Homo sapiens: one gene and its partner. The protein of the gene in region 1 purifies or fractionates together with the protein of each later gene. This does not show direct contact. Each region holds a gene or a part of one and is shown on either strand. Other genes may lie near its edges. The genes, in order: ADIPOR2 and HACD3.

What was found.
Region 2: the proteins of ADIPOR2 (region 1) and HACD3 purify together in Homo sapiens (affinity purification with mass spectrometry, with the first as the bait; 2 studies listed by BioGRID). This does not show direct contact.

Annotation. Positions count from the first base shown.
Region 1 is NC_000012.12:1,775,523-1,786,364, forward strand, and holds part of ADIPOR2 (adiponectin receptor protein 2), read left to right. Parts: intron 1-2,331; coding exon 2,332-2,503; intron 2,504-4,928; coding exon 4,929-5,115; intron 5,116-5,366; coding exon 5,367-5,554; intron 5,555-7,489; coding exon of another isoform or gene 7,490-7,588; intron 7,589-8,357; coding exon 8,358-8,551; intron 8,552-10,421; coding exon 10,422-10,550; 3' UTR 10,551-10,842. UniProt on the Homo sapiens protein: Receptor for ADIPOQ, an essential hormone secreted by adipocytes that regulates glucose and lipid metabolism. Required for normal body fat and glucose homeostasis.
Region 2 is NC_000015.10:65,524,207-65,535,160, reverse strand, and holds the start of HACD3 (very-long-chain (3R)-3-hydroxyacyl-CoA dehydratase 3), read right to left. Parts: upstream 4,699-10,954; 5' UTR 4,530-4,698; coding exon 4,443-4,529; intron 4,368-4,442; exon of another isoform or gene 4,328-4,367; intron 1-4,327. UniProt on the Homo sapiens protein: Catalyzes the third of the four reactions of the long-chain fatty acids elongation cycle. This endoplasmic reticulum-bound enzymatic process, allows the addition of two carbons to the chain of long- and very long-chain fatty acids/VLCFAs per cycle.

The DNA of each region.
Region 1 (10,842 bases):
TGAATGTAAAAAAGGAACATATGACTCTTTTGTCTGTGTGGGGTAGCAGAGTAGCAGTTTGGATACAGCAGAGCTGTGTGCACATTGTGAATTGCCTTGAAGATGTAAGGGTTGATTTCTGTCTTCCTCTCCCTCTCAGAAAATAAAATTCCCCCAAAGTAAGGTAATAGCAACATTCTGTAAGGTTAATCTCAACAATAGTGGTCTTTTCCCAAATTCAAATTTGATGCAAAAAATTCAGTATCTTGGTCTCTCTCTGACACTAAAAGAAGCAGACTGCAGAGGTTGACAGACTTCCAGCAGTTCCAACAGAAGGGATACTGGATCCCTGATCCCCTTTCTCTTTCTCTCCATAAAGTCCTGTGGAAGATCTCATACAGCTACTTTTGTAAGTGGTAGTACTATTAGCAGCAGATGTTAAAAATATAGATTAGTCTTTTGGCATTATTTTATTTTATTGTATGTTAGAAGCAAGCATAGAATGGCCACATTAGCACCAGTAACCACAGACCCCACGTTTTGAGTTGGAAAGTGAGGGAGGAGAGGTTTTGTATGGCTGGGGGCAGGAAGAGTAGGGAAGAGGCAGGGGGCTAGTTTGGTTAGAGTGTTAAGAGGGACACATCTGTTCTTAAATTGTTAGTCCTCACTTCCTTTGGATGTGGAGATGTTACACAGAGGATTAGTTCTTTTACAAATATCTGTAAGGAAGTAAGAGAGCAGAGAACAAGAAACAGGTTGTGGAGCAAAAGGAATGGGCACAGTAGCTGGTGAGTAAGTGGCAGTCTTTCCATAGAGTAGAGAGAGAGCCAAGTTTCCATGGCTTACCCATATTGTCACAAGACCCTGTAGTGGGTAGGGTGGAGGTCATTGTCTGAAGGTGAATCTTGCTGATTTGCAGCCTGGATTCTTGCTTTATAGGGTAATAGACTGGAAGAACTGCTGAGCCCACATTAGCTGGAAGATAAACCATGTGCCTGCCATTTTTCCTTACATCTTTCTGTCTAGCAGAAGCAAGTTAGTCAAGATTAAGTGATCCTTGTGGTGTGAGCTCTCGGGGCTATGAGACATTAAAAGAAGCAGAGTGCAGAGGTTGACAGACTTCCTACAGAGGGGATATCGGATTCCTGATCCCTTTTCCTCTAGAATCTGATGCGGGAGGGACCATGAGGAAACGGGAGGAAAGGGCTCTGAGGGACTGAAAGGGTGGTTAGGGCTGAGCTTCTTTACCATCTCTCTGCAGCATGAGAAGGAAGATGGATTAGTCACTAACTGTCTGACAGGAGATAGCCCCTGGGGATAGTCATGTACTGGCTTTGAGTAGATGCCAGGGATTACTAACTAATTCATGAAATGCTTTGTGTCATTTTGTTTGATCTTCATGATTTCCCTATGAAGTAACTGAAGCGCTATTTTACAAATGAAGGAGCTGCAGGTTGGAGGTTTTTTAATTAATTAAATCTCATATAGCTAGTTAATGCCAGGGGTCCACAATTTTCTGACTCCTGTGCTCTTTCTTTTCTGCCTCATCATATTTGCATAGTGGGAAGAGAAGAAAGAGTAAGATGGAGGGAGAGATTTTAGCAAAAGGCACAAAAGTATGATTCTATGTAATTCTGTTTTTACCAATAGGAATATTAAATATAAAAATGTTCATATTAACACCACAGGGATTTATCAGAGGTAAAGTCTGTTATATAGGTAGGATGAAGGAGGTCAGTATGAGTGAGACTTTGGAACCTTCATCCCACCATTAGCCAGGTTGAAACAAAGTTTGAAACCACTCTTTTAGGGCATTTCCTATAAATTTGTTTACTCTTTCCTTTTCCTAAGGCCCCCACTTAAAAGTATATTTTTTCTTTCTTTTTTTTTTTTTTTTTTTTTGAGGCAGAGTTTTGCTCTTGTTGCCCAGGCTGGAGTGCAATGGCGTCATCTCAGCTCACCACAACCTCCGCCTCCCGGGTTCAAGCAATTCTCCTGCCTCAGCCTCCCGAGTAGGTGGGATTACAGGCATGTGCCACCACACCCGGCTAATTTTTTGTATTTTTAGTAGAGATGGGGTTCGAGCTCCTGACCTCAGGTGATCCACCCACCTTGGCCTCCCAGAGTGCTGGGATTAAAGCCTTAGCCACCATGCCCGGCAAAAATATATTTTTCATCAGTCTTTAAAGAACTCAGAATATAAGACATTATACATTTTGAGATGTTTGCCTTTTTAAAAATGAATTGTTTTTCCCATTATAAAACAGTGTGATAAGACACAGTTGTTAGGGGTCAGTGTTGGTAAATTGACAACTAAAATCACAAAGATGTTTGATAATACCTCTCTGCCAGGTATGGGAAGGTCGGTGGCGAGTGATCCCTCATGATGTACTACCAGACTGGCTCAAGGATAATGACTTCCTCTTGCATGGACACCGGCCTCCTATGCCTTCTTTCCGGGCCTGTTTTAAGAGCATTTTCAGAATACACACAGAAACAGGCAACATTTGGACACATCTCTTAGGTATGTAATGTCAGTGATGTAATGAGCTGGTGATTCACTTTCTTCCTTTTTATTTTCATGTATTTGAGGGTAAGCACAGAACTTCAGAAATGTATTTGGATTTGCCATTTTGTTTTCTGAATTTCTAATGATGAATTTTCTGACTGGTTTACTCGTAGTTTATCCTGGTTTGCACTATGATTTTGTTATAACTTAAGTTATATTTCTTTCTACTAGATTTTCAGATCTTGTCCTCAAACCAGGCCAAGTAAAAGTTGCTATACAAAATGTGGTTTCATATTGTAGTGACCACTGAGAAGAAAGTATTATTTAATAGAAGTAATCTGATCTTTTAAAATGCATTACTTATATGCACTGCTAATTTTCAGTTTGGCCTGAAGTAGAATATGGACTGTAATTTTTTCTCCATAATGATTGTATATTAAAGAAAGAATACTGTAGAGGAAAGAATAGTCTTTCCAACAAATGGTGCTGGGATAACTGAGCCATATGTAAAAGAATGATCCCGAACTCACATATGCAAAAGTGAACCCAAAATGGATCAAAGACCCAAACATAAGAGCAAAAACTATAAAATCCTTAGGAGAAAACATATATAAATCCTTGTAAGTTTGGATTAGGTGACTGTTTCTGAGAATTGCCACCAAAGAAAAAATAGATAAATTGGACTTCATCAAAATTAAAAACGTTGGTATATCAAAGTGCATTATCAAGAAAGTGAAAAGACAACCCATAGAGAAGAGAATATTTACAAATCAGCTAGTTGGTAAGGATCTAATAAATAACTCCTACAACTCAACAATAAAGACAACCGATTTTAAAAATGGGTAAAACATCTGAATAGATGTTCTTCCAGAGAAGATCTAAAATGGCCAATAAGCACATGAAAAGATGTTTGTCTTCGTTAGGCATTTAGGAAAACGCAAATCAAATGCTTTGAGAAATGCAGTGAGAAATCTCAACACTTCACACCCACTAAGATGGCTATAATCAAGAAAATGAAAAATAACAAGTCTTGGCAAGGATGTGGGGAAATTGGAACTTTCATACGTTGCCAGTAGGAATGTGAAATGGGGCAGTCCCCATGGAAAAGTCTGGCAGTTCCTCAAAAAGTTACATAGAGTTACCAGAAATCAACTCCTAGTATATTACCCAAGATGACTGAAAACATGTTCACATAAAAACATGAACACAGAAGTTTGCAGCAACATTATTCATAATAGCTAAAAAGTAGAAGCAACCCAGATGTCTATCGACTGGTAATGGAGAAACAAAATATGGTGTATTCATACACTGGAGTATTATTTAGCTGCAAAAAGGGATGAAGCACTGATACATGCCACAGCATGGGTGAGCCTTGAAAACATTTGCTAAGTGAAAGAAGCCAGACACAGAAGGTCACATGTCGTTTGATTCTACATGCATGAAATGTCCAGAACAGGAAAATCCATAAAGACAGTAGATTAGTGGTTGTTTAGGGCTGTAAGGAGTGGGGAATGGGGGATGACAGCAGATACAGTACTTCTGTTTGGGGTGATGAAAATATTTTGGAATTAGTTAGTGGTGATGGTTGTACAACCTTGTGAATATACTAGTTTCTGGCCTTACTCCATTTGATTTGCATTTCTTATCACACATTTGATTTCCATGGTGCCTCTAAGTTCCTGCCTGCTAGTATAGTGAGAGGAGAGTAGAGGGTCAAATCAAGTTTGTTGCTGACTTCTAATTCAAGGGTAATTTTTAATTAAAATGATAAAACAATTACTTAGCAAACGTTGAAGTTGAAATTTCTGTGCCTGCCTTGTGTTAGGTGGCCCCTCCCTAAGCAATAGGAACATGGCATCTTTCTGTGTAGAACAGTGTAAGAATTGGTTAGGAAATGGCCTGAGTAGGCATTTTGTCCTTAACTCTTGAATCTCCTGAACCAGCTGATGAGGGCCAGAGAAACAGCATGACACTCCCTGACAGCTATTGGTAGAGGAAAGCTGTATTTCTTGGCAGGGTTTAGGGGTATTGGAATTCATTGTAAAAACAAAAGCAAAAGCACAATGGACCTTTGAAAGCTGGACTATGAGGTATGTGCCAAAAACTGTATAAATGAAACTATTCTACATCTAGAGGTAGAAGTGGCTTCATTATATCTTCTAAGAAGTAGCAGCAGTGTCTGATTTCTTTTTAGATTATGCCCTTAGATAAGTTTTTATATTCTGTATATTCAGTTTATGAAGCTGAAGTATTTCTGATACCAACAATGTTGGAAGTAAACCACAATTTTGGATAGGCTTCAGTTATTTGGAAGATTTTTCTCATTGAACTTTTGATTCAGATATTGTTGTAATGCAGAAGGATTGAAAACAGAATCAGTTATAATACTGTCTCTTCTAAAGGGTGATATTTTATCTATTTTCTGTGCTCTTTTTCCTAGGTTGTGTATTCTTCCTGTGCCTGGGGATCTTTTATATGTTTCGCCCAAATATCTCCTTTGTGGCCCCTCTGCAAGAGAAGGTGGTCTTTGGATTATTTTTCTTAGGAGCCATTCTCTGCCTTTCTTTTTCATGGCTCTTCCACACAGTCTACTGCCACTCAGAGGGGGTCTCTCGGCTCTTCTCTAAGTAAGTATCTGTAAAGTCCGTATTTTGGCCAATGATTTAGAGGTAGTGCGTTAGGGAAAAACATTCAGCAGAGTTGGCAGAATTCTTAATATCATCTCATGCAAACTTTTTTTTTTTTAAAAATTAAAGAGCAACCCAGTTTGGCTCTTAGGTGTCGTTGATGGCTTATGTCATGAGGGATTAATTGGAACCTGTAGTGGCCAGTAGTTTTTAAATTACTGCATTAAATGGATTTTTTTTTTCTGTCATAGACTGGATTACTCTGGTATTGCTCTTCTGATTATGGGAAGTTTTGTTCCTTGGCTTTATTATTCTTTCTACTGTAATCCACAACCTTGCTTCATCTACTTGATTGTCATCTGTGTGCTGGGCATTGCAGCCATTATAGTCTCCCAGTGGGACATGTTTGCCACCCCTCAGTATCGGGGAGTAAGAGCAGGTAAGAGCACGGGGAGGTTCTACATTCGACATTCATTTATTCACTAGTTAAATTCACTATTTATTAAAGTTCTACCATTTGCCAAACATTATGCTGTGTATTTGTGATGCCAAGATGAAGAAATCATAGTTCCTATTGTTGGGGGTTTTTTTATGTAGTAGTCGTAGTAGTTGTTGTTGTTAGTAGTGTTTATTAATTGTCTTAAAGCATTAGGGTTGAGGGGTCATGGTGAGTATGAGGTGATATAATTTGGGACTGTTACTTACTTGAATTTATGGCTAAACACCATCCAGAAAGCGGTAGTCTATAACTTTTGTAAACAATGATTTCTCTTACTCATTGTGGAGTGTACTTTTTGTAGTGATTCTTTTTTTGTTGTCATTTTCTGTTTTGTTTTATATTTTTATTTTATAATGGATAATCTGCTTAAGGCTTCACCCCCATGCTGATTATGTTTTGTTAAAGTGGGCACCATATCTCCCTTCTGATGTAGGGATAAAGGGGCTTTTTATATTTAGGATAATGCCTGTTTAGCTGGAGATCATAGAGAAAGCCACAAGCCCCTCAGTGCCTTGGCTGAGTCTTCTTGTAGGACATGGAATTAGCAGAGATGTTCTTGTCTCCTACTCAGTGTCAAGCTCAGTGCCCACTGAGAATGAACAAGGAGTGTTTTTCCTTTCGTCCTTAAACCCCCAAAACCATTTAGTATTAAAATCTAAACCCTGGATCATCCGGGGGTACCTGGAAGGTTAGACACAGAAGTAACCTCATGTCAGTGACCACTGTTAAAACACTCTGCCGTCCTCCTTTTTGTGTTCATATGAGCAAATGAGCATTGGTCAGGGTCAGCTTTCAACAGTACTTGAGTAGTACAGTGGTGTTAAGCCTGCTTGAGCACATGAGATAAGAATGTCTTTGCTGAGTACAGCTGAGCATTCTGTTATTTACATACATCAGAAGAACCAAATTCCTGAGCCTTTGACTTAGAGAATGATAGGCAGAAACCATTAGCAGCCTTTGCTTAGCATGTAGAGGAAAAGAAAAAGTGAATAGTGCAAAAGTCTAGCAAATCTTTCCTTAGAGGAGCAGAGGTAGGAAATAGTTTTTCTTTAGGTCTGCTTGGTTCTTACCTGTTGTGAGAGCAGCATTGCCATTTTCCTCTTCTCTTTTAGATGTCCATTTTATTTGTGAGTATGCATCCCATAGCTGTGCTTACATATATTGCTGTATACCAGCAGTTTATTTGGTAATGTCCAAAGCAAGTAATAGGTTCTTTATCTGTTGAGAAAGCTTACCAAATGACAGCTTGTTTTGCAAGGGTCATTGTTAACTCTGTGTCAAAATGTAGGAGCAGTTACTGGCAGAGGCAGGGAGCTCCTGTGTTGCTTTGGCTGATACACGGGTTTCAAAGTGGATTTAGATCAGTGGACTTCACATTTTTTTTTCCATCATGACATTTTCTATTACAGTCCTGAACACGTGTATCTATACATAAGTTCATGTATATATAAATTACAAAACTTTAACAAAATAGTATTTAATCCTCCACGTATGTTACAGTCTGATATTTTAAATTTTATTCTAGTTCATTTAAAAAAATGCTGGTTGAGACTCATTTAATTGATCTTAGAACTTAGGTCATATCCAGAAGTTTAAAAAAACATTAGATGCTTCTGGAGGCAGTAAGGCAGTAGGGCTGTGGCTGAGTGATTTGCTAGACTTTTGTACTTGATTGCTATTTAGGGGTCTGGGAGCTTATAGTATTCTCTCCCATCCCCCACCCCCATTAGGTCATTTGTTAAAGGCATTTAACAATTTTTAAGTGCCCAGTTATAGGTTATAGATTTAGATTAAATTTTTTCTTCTTTTTTCTTTTCTTTTCTTTTTCTTTCTTTCTTTCTTTTTTTTTTTTTTTTTTTTTTTTTTGAGATGGAGTCTTGCTTTGTAGCCCAGGCTGGAGTGCAGTGGTGCCATCTTGGCTCCTGACCTCAAGTGATCTGCCTGCCTCGGCCTCCCAAAGTGCTGGGATTACAGGTGTGAGCTGAGCCACTGCGCCCAGCCTTAGATTCCTATTAAAAATAGGTGATGCCAGGTGATGTGATCATTCATCGCCTCTCCACCCCAACAACGCCTGCTGCTTCAAAGAGAAGATGGGATACGTAAAATTGCTTGTATTGTAACCTGTGTCTGTAGAAGGACAGGCTAGGACAGTTTAAATAAACTCCTGGAGCTGTCCTTTCCGAAAACATTTAGCAACATTAATTCAAAACCCTTGAAGACTGCTGACTTACTAAGCTAAGCCTCTCTTAGTGAGGCTCATTGCTTTTTTTTTTTTTTTTTGAGACGGAGTTTCACTCCTGTTGCCCAAGCTGGGGTGCAATGGCGTGATCTCGGCTCACTGCAGCCTCTGCCCCCGGCTTCAGGTGATTCTCCTGCCTCAGCCTCCCGAGTAGCTGGGATTACAGGAGTGCGCTACCACGCCTGGCTACTTTTTGGATGTTTAGTAGAAATGGGGTTTCACCCTGTTAGCCAGGCTGGTCCCAAAGTGCTGGGATTACAGGTGTGAGCCACTGCACCCGGCTGGCTCCTTGCATTTGTAAATCTTTAGAACATAGCTGTGTTGTCTTGTGTGACAGTGTCCCAGAGTTTGAAGAACCTTCTTTTTCCTTTAAAACTGGAAGCTAATTTTATATGCTACTTTGAAATATTCAGTTTACAGAGTTAATGGTGCTGTGCTGTAATACTGACTTCTGGCTCTTTGTTTCTCTTCTGCATTACTTTACTCTCTTCTTGTGACTCCTAGGAGTGTTTTTGGGCCTAGGCCTGAGTGGAATCATTCCTACCTTGCACTATGTCATCTCGGAGGGGTTCCTTAAGGCCGCCACCATAGGGCAGATAGGCTGGTTGATGCTGATGGCCAGCCTCTACATCACAGGAGCTGCCCTGTATGCTGCCCGGATCCCCGAACGCTTTTTCCCTGGCAAATGTGACATCTGGGTAAGTATGTCGGGGTGACTGAGTGTGTAGGTATCTGCTCATGAGTTATTGGCATCCTGCAGAGTGATGCAATAGAAAAAGTTTTAGACACAAAGTCAGGAGAGTTGTATCCTGGTCCTAACTCCCTATTGAGCTTTCTCTGGACAATAAGTACAATAATAACTAACATTTAGTGAGCACTTCCTTGGTGCTCAGCATGGTACAGAGTGCTTTGCACGGATTACCTCATTACATACATTAGCCCTATGTGGTATGATAACTCTTGTTAATGTCTTCATTTTACAAAGCAGGAGACTAAGGCTTAGGGAGGTGAGGCCACTTGTCCAAGCCATGTGGCTATTTAAGTGGTAGAACAGGAATTTGAATTAGGCTAGTTTTAATATCAGAATCTGTGCTCTTTTTGACAATGGCAAGTCATTTTGCCATTCTTTGTCTCAGTTTCCTTATTTATGAAATGAGGATGATAGACCAGATTTTCACCAGAGCCCTTTTTAGGACCAGATTTCTATCAGGGTCTTTTTTTATACCGAAATTTAGTGATTTGTAATGGGAGACTGAGTGTATGTATGTCTGGTGGAAGAAGAGGGATTGTGAAGAAGAGGGAACTGGATTGAACTGGATTGTGGTCATTGGTAAGAGAGGAGGAAAGAGAAGAGGGAAAAGAAAATATAAGGACTGATATAGATAGAAAAACTTATAACCAAAGAGGGCCTGAAATATTTTCAACAAGACAACATTGGAAATACGCTTAATGTGAAATCTGACCTTTGTAATTCTGTTCCTCAGCCTATTGCTGATTATTATAGACTAACCTGATGATCTCATCTCTTTAAAGTTTAGTTTAGCTATCTGTAAAATGAAGATGATCTTGAACTTAAGCAATCTTTCTAGCTTCAAATTAGCTAATTTATCTTTCTGATTCATCATCATCATTTTAACATTGGTATGGAGGGGTTTTTGCCCTTTATCCCCTTTCTTTGGGGGAAATTAATCCCCTTTGGTTTCCTAGGAAACATCTCTTGGGATGTGACTTGATTTCTTCTAGTTTTTGCTTCTAAAATCAGTGTTTTTCTCTTGATAAATACTGCTTTGCCACTGTACTTTTTCATTTTGAGATTATAATGACAGAATAGTGTAATTTTTGAAGTGCAGCGAGCAATTGATTACCCTTCTTGAGATGTGGAATAGCATTCAACAGAACAGGTAAAATCAGAAATAATGTCACTTGCTTGTAGACCAGCTTCTGACTTGAGAAGTAAAAGGGCCTGTTTGCTTAGTTTTTGACACATTATGTAGTTCATGAAATTTGAGAATCGTAGCACTGAAGGAAACTCTGGGGACCATATGTTGTGACATTCCACACACCATCCTGGAAGCCTCTTTAGTTTTTCTAACAGAGAGCAACATTTAAATGACCATAGCTCTAGTCCTCTTGTCCATGACAAAATGTCCATCAGCAGTGAGTAGGAAAAGGACTGTATGTGTAATCATAGCCCATGGCTAGGTGTCAAGGGATCCTTGGGACCTTTGTGGCCTGTTAGCAAGAGAGTCTGTGTGTCATTTGCCACTTTAGCAAGAGAGTCTGTGTGTCATTTGCCACTGGTTTCAGTGTTAAGTTTGTAGATTTTTATGTGTAGAGCTTAGTGGCAGCACCTTGGTTTCTTTGGGAACAGCTGGCTTTCAGCTCAGCAGAATGTGTTACACCTAATGGATGTTCCAGGATCTGTGGACGCCTTGAATTTGAGCTCTGTCACATCCATTCCCTGCCTTCTGCTCAGCATAAACCAGGATTAAACGATCCTAAGAATCTTTAGCAGTCTTAATAATGTATGGGTTTCTCTACCCCCTTCTCTTCTTTTTTCCCCTCCAGTTTCACTCTCATCAGCTGTTTCATATCTTTGTGGTTGCTGGAGCTTTTGTTCACTTCCATGGTGTCTCAAACCTCCAGGAGTTTCGTTTCATGATCGGCGGGGGCTGCAGTGAAGAGGATGCACTGTGATACCTACCAGTCTCCAGGGACTATGACCCTAAACCAGGGCCTGCGGCACTTGCGGGCCTCCCTGCTGGCTACTGATGCCAGTACCAGAGGAGCCCCAAAACTTTGACAGCCTCGTGGGCTTTGTGACGGCCCAGTGGCTCTGCGTGGTACATGACTGAGAAGAGAAAAACAAAAATAAATCATACCTCAAAGGATGGAGTGCATCAATTGGGAGAAAAGGAGACATAGCCCAAACCCTGGCTTATTCTTGGGATCTACTGATTGCGGGCTCTGCAAGACCCTTGGCAAACTG
Region 2 (10,954 bases), on another chromosome or scaffold:
CTTTTTAGTAGTTTTTCTTTATGCGTTTAGGTCATTAATGCACCTGAAACTGATTTTTGTGTATGGCATAAGGCAGGATCTTATTTTCTTTTTGCCATTTGGATTACCAATTGTCCCAGTACAATTTCCTGAATGGGTCATTCTCTCCTCATTAATTTGTAAGAGCGCCTCTTGTCATACCTTAACTTTTCATATATGAATAGGTCTGCTAATAGGCTCTATTCTTCCATTGCTCTGTGACCATCCCTCTCATCTAAGGTTTAATATCGCAATCATCATAATCACTCACTTGAACTGCACACTAGAATTTGCAAAGCACTTTCAAATCCATTTTCCAATTCAAATCTCAAAATGGTCCTATGAGTTAGGCACTACTGTTCATATCTGTCTGGATGAAGAGCGTCAGGTTCATAAAGGTTAAGTGAATCATGGTCACTAGAGCATAAGTGTAATAAGAACAAGGACCCAATCTCATGTGTTCAGTTAGCACTCTTTCCACCAGACTCTGTTAGGTAAGGACAGGAACAATATCTTTCAAACAGCTCTCAAACACAGCTACGCTCTGTTCTCTGCTCACAACACCCAAAACAAACAAGCACCTTGTAAATAAACCAATGCTTTAACAACTATGTTTCTCGGGACAAACACGTTCATTATGTTCATCGTGAAAGTAAATTCAATCTTGAAAGTAACCCTGCTTTAGCTGGCCTCTTTGCTACCGTTCACCTCAAGCACAGACGATGCCACTGCTGAAGTCTTTATTGTCCACCATTTCTCCTCACATCAGCCGTGTTCTCTCATAGTCACTAGCCCTGCAGCATCCAAGACAGAATAGAGATGTGATGACTGGACAGTTCCCTGTGTCAGGATGGAGGGAGACAGAGCCAATGCCTCCAAACTGGAACTTAACACTTTAAAACTCACACTTACACATAAGCTGTGGGTCATGCTATAGAAAGCAGAGAGTGTTAAAGTGCTGTCCAAGAACCCCACACCTAGCTTAATGATAGACAAGAGTAGGTACTCCATAAACGATTTTTACTGAACAAATAAATGAAGTGCTTCATCCAGAGCCAGAACCACTGGTTTCTTTTCTTTTTTTTTTTTTTTGAGACGGAGTCTCGCTCTGTCCCCCAGGCTGGAGTGCAGTGGCGCAGTCTCGGCTCACTGCAAGCTCCACCTCCCGGGTTCACGCCATTCTCCTGCCTCAGCCTCCTGGTAGCTGGGACTATAGGCGCCCGCCACCACGCCTGGCTAATTTTTTTGTATTTTTAGTAGAGACGAGGTTTCACCGTGTTAGCCAGGATGGTCTCGATCTCCTGACCTCATGATCCGCCCGTCTCGGCCTCCCATAGTGCTGGGATTACAGGCATGAGCCACCACACCCGGCTGCTTTTCTTTCTTTTTTTTTTTTTTAAATAACAAATCTGCACATGTAAAACCACTGGTTTCAACAGGCCCTGCATAGAGCAATCAGTTGAGAAAGAAAAAAAAAAGGCAACCCGTGACACTCCAGAAGCAGGCATAGCACTCACAGCCAGGCCATGTTATTCTCCTATGGGACATAAACAATCTCACAGAATACCAACCTCAGACAAGGTTACTCTGAAATCCTCATAAAATGAGACAAAGGCCATTTCACAATTTTGTTATAAGCACAGACAAATACATAGTGGCTATGCCACTCACGAAATACCAAACACCCTTTGGCCAAATTGAGTGACTGCTACTCCTGTAGCAATTACAGTTTTGTTCTTATACTAGTCTCCCTGCCCTACAGGTAAGATTTATTCAGATACCCAACCACGAAACTCCCATATTTTCTTACAGGATCTTATCTGAAGTGAAACCCAACCTCCTTAACCCTCCCCTCCCCTAATCACCAACACCCAAATCCTATAATCAGTTCTAACACCCTCCTAATGAAACACCCCAGGGTTCCCCATGGAGTATGCTCTCTCAATGCAATGAGTAATAAACCCAACTTGTTTAACTACGGGTGTGTTATTGGTGGCCTTTGGGCATTGACACGGCTTAAGTCAGAGATTACAAGTGTCTAAAAGTCTATGCCTTTCTCTTTCTGGAACATTCTCCCAGTCTTAGTTTGACAAAAATAATTCTCATTTCTGGAAGTCATCACTAACTAAATGAAAGAAAGGTAACAAATTCCTTTAACACCAGATACCTGGTTCAACATCCAACTCCAATTCTACCAATAAACATACTCCTACACAAAACTTTTTGTTTGTATATGATACGCCTCCTTCTAGATAGCATGCCCTTGAAAAGCTGGGTCTGACTCACCTTTGTAAATCTGTACTACCTTACATGTGTTAGAGGATTGCTAACACATGTAAACACTCTTTTATGAGGGTAACATCATGCTTTTAAACTAATGGTAGTTGAAATATGGGTGCCTCAAAACTACAGATGTGAAACCCCAGAGAAAACAAAAACTCAATAAGGGGGAAAAATGATTTATTTTTCCCCAAAAATTTTTAGATGGTTACTTTTTTTTTTTTTTTTTTGAGACAGAGTTTCACTCTTGTTGCCCAGGCTGGAGTGCAATGGCACCATCTCAGCTCACCGCAACCTCCGCCTCCCGGGTTCAAGCAATTCTCCTGCCTCAGCCTCCCGAGTAGCCAACATAGTGAATTACACGCATGCACCACCATGCCCGGCTAATTTTGTATTTTTAGTAGAGATGGGGTTTCTCCATGTTGGTCAGGCTGGTGTCGAACTCCTGACCTCAGGTGATCCTCCCGCCTCGGCCTCCCAAAGTGTTGGCATTACAGGCGTGAGCCACAGCACCTGGCCTGTTCCGTACTTTTTTATTGACTGCTGGAAGAACCCTCTCTAGACGGGGACTTTGATCCCCATCTACAAAAGATTTTGTTTGTTTTTTCCTATTCTATTAAACCACCGTGGAGCAGTAGAGGGAGACAGCACAGAACATTTACTCATACTCTGACCCAAAAGTATAGCCTCAGTCTGGATGAACACATTAAACGACACACCATGCAATGTCATAGCCTATTTAAAGGCATTCTGGCCACTACTGTCTTCATCTTTCAACAGGAAAACTGTTTATATTCCAGAAGCAAAGATTATATTAAATTCAATAAATTCAAGTCGACACTCAGAAAGCACCTACATTTTACCGGATCCACGGGTGATCCAAGCAGATGCCTGTTCAGAGGCAGAGAGAGTTAAATGGAGTGAAAGAGATGACAAAGTGCCATAGATGTTAAGGAGAAGTTTCCAATAAGAATGACTGTAGAAAGAACCTTCCAGAGGCTGGGCGCGGTGGCTCATGCCTGTAATCCCAGCACTTTGGGAGGCCGAGACGGGTGGATCACCTGAGGTCAGAAGTTCGAGACCAGCCTGGCCAACATGGTGAAACCCTGTCGCTACTAAAAATACAAAAATTAGCCGGGCATGGTGGCACGCGTCTATAATCCCAGCTACTCGGGAGGCTGAGGCAGGAGAATCCCTTGAACCCGGGAGGCAGAGGTTGCGGTGAGCCGAGATCGCGCCATTGCACTCCAGCCTGGGCGACAAGAGCGAAACACCGTCTCAAAAAAAAGAAAAGAAAAAAAAAGAAAGAAAGAAAGAAAGAACCTTCCAGAATGAAAATTCCAGTTTCTCAAAGCCCAGAATCTTTAGTTTGGACAGAGACATGAGGATACACAGGTCCTGGAGTCTCCACTACTACGTGCCTTCAGCTTGCTTACATTAAGGGCCAAGGAGCTCAAACAGAAATGCTTAATGTAACTTAAGAACTTTTTAAGTTCTCTGTGCAACTCAGCAAACCTGAGCTCACAACCTTCAGAACAGAGGGGGAAATCACTTCCTCCAGCTCTTGTGAATTTTAAAATTAAAAGTAATGAGAATGATTTCCATCACTGAACGGTTGCGAGGTGGGTGTGGCCCCCCACCCCTCCCCCTCCCCCACCTCCGGCAGCGCCCAGCCTCAGTAACGTCCGAGGGGCCTGGCTGGACCTCTCAGGCCAGCGGCAGGCATTCAGCTACGGCCCAGCAAGCCGCTGTCACAACCGCACCCCTGACCCAACAAGCTCATCCCACATCTCGAAGGGCCCCAGCCAACTCGAACCCCGACGGCCAGGCAGCCAGGGCCGGGCCTGGGCTCCATGAAGGCCGCCGACTGCGAACAAAGAAGAGGCCCGGGGTAGCCTGAGAGGCCCAGGCCGAGCTCTCTGGGGACCCGAAGGTTCCTGCAGCCCTCGGGGGGTTGTGCCCCCGGCCCGAGATCTGCAGATGAGCCTCGAAAAGCGCCAGCACGCCGTAAGCGCACCGCGTCGCCGACCTTGTTGGCGCACTGCAGGCTCTCCGGCGCGCACGCGGACAAAGGGGGCAGGGGTCCTGGCGGGTACCCGGAGCCGCGATCCCGCGCGCTTCCCGCCGCCCGACCCGGCCTTTACCTGTACGTCACTCAGCTCCACGCGCAGATATAGCTCGCGGTGTCGCTGAGCCCAGTAGACATGCGGCGTCAACACCTGATTCTCCATGGCCACACTGCCCAGGGCGCGGGGAGGCTAGGCTCGCTGCGCCTCGCTGCCTCAGGTAGTGCTCTGCTGGCGCGAGCAGAAAGCAGGCCTCAAACCCTAGCGCTCCTGAGCGCCTGCAACCCGGCACCTCGAGATACCCCACGCTCGCGGGCCGCGCCTGCGCAGTGACGCGCCGGGATGGCGGCGGCGCCAGCAGCGGGCCTTGGCGCGAGCCGGGCGGGGGCGGGGCGCAGGCGGGATAGGGGCAGGCCGGGGCACAGAGACGCCGCAGCTCGCCGCGGCCGCCTAGGGAATTGGAATCAGCGGGTGGTCTGCTCTCCCCACTCGTCTTCAGGGACATGCTTTAAAATAAGCTTTAAAATAAAAAAGGCTGGAGACTTATGGGGGACCGATCAGCCTGGAAAAGGGTTTGGGACTGGTGTCTCTGGACGGTCCTTCGCATTCTGTTTACTGAGTACCTACTGTGTGCCTGGGTTTCAAAGCTAAACACTGGAACAACAGAAGTGAGACACAGTCCCTTCTGTCTTAGAACTCCCAGCCTATTAAAAGATGCAAGTAATTACAGATGAAATGAGGATAATAATGGTGATAGGGGACATGGTGTGGGAGCAGCGTGGAAGAGCGTTCCAACAAGGGAAAATAAAGACCAGGGCAGCGCTGCCCAATAAAACTGTAGGTGATGATGGAAATATTGCACATTGCGCTCTTTAATACGGTAGCCACTAGCCACATGAGGCTTTTGAGTACTTGAACTGAATAACCGAATTTTCAATTTTACTCACTTCTGTTTTTTTTTTGTTGTTGTTGTTGTTTTGTTTTGAGACGGAGTTTCTCTCTTGTTGCCCAGGCTGGAGTGCAATGGCGCGATCTCGGCTCACCGCAACCTCTGTCTCCCGGGTTCAAGTGATTCTCCTGCCTCAGCCTCCCGAGTAGCTGGGATTACAGGCATGCGCCACCGGCTAATTTTGTATTTTTAGTAGAGACGAGGTTTCTCCATGTTGGTCAGGCTGGTCTCGAACTCCCGACCTCAGGTGATCCGCCCGCCTTGGCCTCCCAAAGTGCTGAGATTATAGGCGTGAGACACCGCGCCCGGCCAACTTTATTCACTTCTAATTTAAACTTAAATATCCATATTTTTGGTGGCTATTCTATTGGACAGTGCAGGAGACTGTCTCAAAAAAATAGGAAACTCAAACTAGAGACAACACTCATTTATGTCTTACTTAAGCTGTCTTGTCTGTATCGGGTTTCATCCCCAAGTTCTTCTGCAGAGAAGAATTTAATGGGAAGAAATATTTATATGAAAACTAGAACTCTGGGACAAAAATGGAACTCATATTCAATCCTGTTAGCTCCCATTTATTTAGCAAAGTGATTCTATTAGCACCCGTTTGTTTAGCAGAGGGATCTAACGCTGAAAACAAATTCTGCTAGCTCTCTGGAAACATTTAGCTCAAGAGTGGACAGAATAAAATATAGAGAGTTTTCATATAATGAATGTGCTGAGCTCACAAAGAGTTTATGATGATAGGAACTGAGGGCCGTGGGAACCATTGTCAGACATTTGAGAGCCAACCCTTGAGAACGGGATGGTGAAATGCGAGTAGGAATTTGACTGAGTAAGAACCAGGTAGGCCGTGGAAGCACAGGGCGCTTGCTTCGTTCACAGGTGAAAAGATGTGGACCAGGTGCAGCGTCTCACGCGTGTAATCCCAGCACTTTGGGAGGACGAGGCGGGAGGATCGCTGGAGCCCAGGAGTTTGAGACCAGCCTGGGAAAAATGGCAATACACTGTCTCTACAAAAAATACAACAGTTAGCAGGGCGTGGTTGGCGCGCCCCTGGGGTCCGAGCTACTCGGGAGGCTAGGGTGGGAGAATTGCTTAAGCCCAGGAGGCGAGATCGCGCCACTGCACTCCAGCTTGGGTGACAGTGTGAGGCCCTGTCTTAAAATTTAAAAAAGAGAGAGGGTTGTGGAAGGAGGTTCTGCTGCTAGGGATTAAAGGCATAGAGGAGAGAGGTCGCCCTGAATCTGGAAAGGCAGAGGGTGCATTAGGAAAGTCTTTGTTTGCTTCACTGAGGTGCCTATACTGTATCCCACAGACACATGGGAGCCAAGGAAGTTTGTTAACCTGGAGATTAGTAAAATCAAATGTGCTCAGCAAGAAAGACCTGTCAGAGAGGAGGAGGAATTGGTAGTAGGCAAAGCAATGGGAGACCAATGCAATCTGCCAAGAATGAGTTGATGAAAGCAGTGACGTTGACAGTCTTGAATTTTAACGATAAAATATTTTTTATGATAAAGGTATTTTATTGTATTGTGTTTACTACAATGCAGATGCAATATGGGGCACTTTTTAAAAACATTGAGATGTAGTTTACATATAGAACATGGGTAAATCTTAAATATTCAGTTTAAGCTGAATTTTTCTATATGTATATATCCATGTAATTATCACCTAGATCAAGATCTGGAATATTTCCAGTATCCCAGAGGTTATTTCATGTTAAAATATCTTTGCCTCTCAGTAATTACTATCCTGATATATCACCATAGAGTCTTTTTTGTCTGTTCTGTTCTTGAATTTTATATAAATGGAACCTACAGTGTCTGGTTTCTTTTTCTTTTTTCTTTTTTTTTTTTTTGAGACAGAGTCTTGCTCTGTCACCCAGGATGGAGTGCAGTGGTGCAGTCTCGGCTCACTGCAACCTCGGCCTCCCAATTCAAGCGATTCTCCTGCCTCAGCCTCCCAAGTAGCTGGGATTACAGCTGTCCGCCATCACGCCCAGCTAATTTTTGTATTTTTAGTAGAGACGGGGTTTCACCATGTTGGTCAGGATGGTCTCTAACTCCTGACCTCGTGATCTGCCTGCCTCAGCCTCCCAAAGTGCTGGGATTACAGGCATGAGCCACCGTGCCTGGCCCCTAATTTTTGTATTTTAGTAGATACGGGGTTTCACCATCTTGGCCAGGCTAGTCTTGAACTCCTGACCTCATGATCCACCCGCTTCAGCCTCCCAAAGTGCTGGGATTACAGATGTGAGCCACCGCACCGGGCCTTGGTTTCTTTCATCAACATAATGTGTATGAGATTTATCCATGTTGCTGAGTGAATCAGTAATTCATTCTTTTAGTTTTTGGTTTTGCTCTGTAGTAGTTGACTATATGAGTATACCACAAATTATTTATCCATTCTCCTATCGATGGATATTTGTGTTGTTTCTAGTTTTTAGCTATTACAAATAAAGCTGCTCTGAATATTTGTGTACCTGTCTTTTGGGGATAAATGCTCTTAATTATCTTGGAATAAATACCTATGAAGGGAATTGCTAGGTTACACAGGTGTATGATTAGCTTTAGTAGGTGTGCTAAGCAGTTTTACAAAGTGTTTTGGTCAATTTACATTCCACGGCAATGTTTGAAAGTTCTAGTTGCTCTATATCCCTAGTATTTTCAGACTTTTTAATTTAATTTTATTTTATTTTATTTTATTTTATTTTTTGAGAAAGAGTCTTGCTCTGTTGCCCAGGCTGGAGTGCATTGGCGCGATCTCAGCTCACTGCAACTTCTACCTCCGCAGTTCAAATGATTCTCCTACCTCAGCCTCCCAAGTAGCTGGGATTATAGGTGTGCACCACCACACCTGGCTAATTTTTTTATTTTTAGTAGAGATGGGGTTTCACCATGTTGGCCATGCTGGTCTCAAACTTCTAGGCTCAAATGGTCTCAAACTCCTGGGCTCAAGTGATCCTCCTGCTGCAGCCTCCCAGGCGTGAGCCACAGCACCCAGCCTAATTTTTTTTTTCCAGCACCACCCCCACCCCCAGCCAATGTTTTTAATTTTAGCCATCCTGGTAGGTGGGTAATAAAAAATAGAATAATTTTAATTCAGCGTATTTGAAACCTGAGGCTTATCAGCTGACTTCTACCAAGGTGAAAGCTATTGATATAGAAGAAGACTGAATGTTGGCATTTTGCCTCAGATGCTTCATAAGAAAGGTCCAGTGGAAGTGGGCCTATCCAGCCTGGTTTGACCACTAGTAACATACTGCAAAATGACTTCTTTAGGCCTGAGTTTCCACATTCATCAAATTAGGTAAATTTGATGAGTTGGATTTGGTTCCCTCTAATGCTCTTATCAGCTGTTTCTAAATTTTTCTGCAAAGAGACCCCACTATTATGGACCCCTCTCTGCAAGAGAAATCTAACAAGAAAAAAAATAGAAATGGAGAGAAGAAAGAGTATCATTCTGGTGAACTATAAAACTCCAGGGTGGGGCTGGACATGGTGGCTTATGCTGTAATCCCAATGCTTTGGGAGGCTGAGGTGGGAGGATCGCTTGAGTTTAAGAGTTCGAGACCAGCCTGGGCAAAACAGTGAGACCCCATCTCTATAAAAAATTTTAAAAATTAGCCAGGTACGGTGGCATGTGCCTGTAGTCCTAGCTACTAAGGAGGCTGGGAGGATCTCTTAAGCTTGGAAGGTCAGAGATGCAGTGAACTGTGATGGCACCGATGCACTCCAGCCTGGACAACAGAGCAAAACCTTGTCTCAAAAAAAAAAAAGCAAACCAAAATACGCTGGAAGGTGGCAGGGGAGATTAAAAGGCAGAGCCAAGTGGCAGTGCCAAGCTGAAATAGGTAGGGCTAAGAGTTTTATGATACTATCGGTCAAATGAAAATGCAAATTTAGCCTTGTCTTTTTGTCCTACCTTCTAGATGCAGCCTTCCCAGCCTCATTTGGCCAAGGGCCAGCTCTCCCTTCTCAGAGAATAGTCACCACTAACTACAGGAAGCATTTGCTGAGTACTTGCCATGGATTAAGCTCATTCCCAGGGCTGAAGGCTGATTTCCTGCCTTTGGCAAGGGGTCATACACATCCTTGTTGTTATCTATGTATAAAATCTTCTATTCTGGAAGAGGTTTTAGAAAATGAGCTGTAGAATTTGGCTGGATTCAAACCACCCAGGGTCACCCAGCCAGTTATCCCTGAGCAAAGTCAGGTTTCTCTAGATGGTACAAAGCTAAGTGTGGAGAGGGAGACTGACTGGATCAGTGCAGGTATCTAATGGGGAATCCTCCACAGCCAGATCATACACATGTAGCCTCCCAACTCTGCCTGGAGAATGGGTATTGTAGGCCATCTTTACTGGGAAAACCTTCCCCTCTACCTGTCAATCCACAGTTCAGAAGTGTGAACTAAAAATGAAATCCTAAGCCTCACAATTGACTGAGCAGACCCCTTCTTGGCCAAGGGGACACCAGAAAAACCTTAAAAACTGAGTTCCAGGTCATGACGGGATGGGAGGTCACATATGCCTCCTTATACCCCCTCCCTTTTGCGGTTGAGACACAACAACTGACCAGCATTAATGTGAAAATAGAGAGCATAAGACTGATGGAACAACAACAAAAAATAATAAAAAATAATGTGTTTAAAGACTGATGGAACGGACTCTTTGTGGCAATATGATACCAAATTATAAATAAGACCTAAAGCCATGCTAGGCAAGAGTTAAGTCACACACCCCTACACTTAAAGAATAAACCATGTTTAACTGCCACAAGGTTTTTCTTTCTCTAGCAGCTAAACAAGCACTAGCCTTAAGATAATCAATATTAAAATTTCTAGCTTACCCCTCACCAGACACTGGCCAACTGACCCCTTGTTCCACAAGCCATAACTATAGCTTTGATTGGACAAGAGACTTATTTCAGTAACCTTCTGCTGATAAGAAGACTATCAACCACGGACGAGTTCTGTCTAGTTTACAGAGGCTGTACATTTGAGTGCCTTTGTGTCCTGAAAAGACCTTTTGACATATAGGTCAAATTGTAATACATTTAAGTGTTAAGTCTCCACTGCAAGGTGAACATGGGTCATATGTAACATACATGTTTCTTCAATATTCGTGCTTCAGGACCACCTTCATGAATATTCATACCTCCTCCTATAACCTGTTGCATATGTATGTTTAGCCAATCTATTCAGCATAAAGCTCCTGTCCCACCCCTTCATCCTTCAAAGTACCTGACTCTGGTCTTTACGAGAGGCTACACTTCCCAGCCTATCAGCACGGTCACCTTACAAGCTGTAACCCTTTATAGAAAATAAAGTCTCATTTTCTTTTCTTTTTTTTCTTTTTTTTTTTTTTTGACAGAATTTCACTCTCGTTGCTCAACACTCAGGCTGGAGTGCAATGGCGCAATCTCGGCTCACTGCAACCTCCGCCTCCCAGGTTCAAGTGATTCTTCTGCCTCAGCCTTCAGGAGTAGCTGGATTACAGGTGCGTGCCACCATGCCCAGCGAATTTTTGGTTTTGTTTTATGTTTTTTGAGACTGAGTCTTGCTTTGTCACCAGGCTGGAGTGCAGTGGCACAATATCGGCTCACTGCAACCTCCGCCTCCTGGGTTCAAGCGATTCT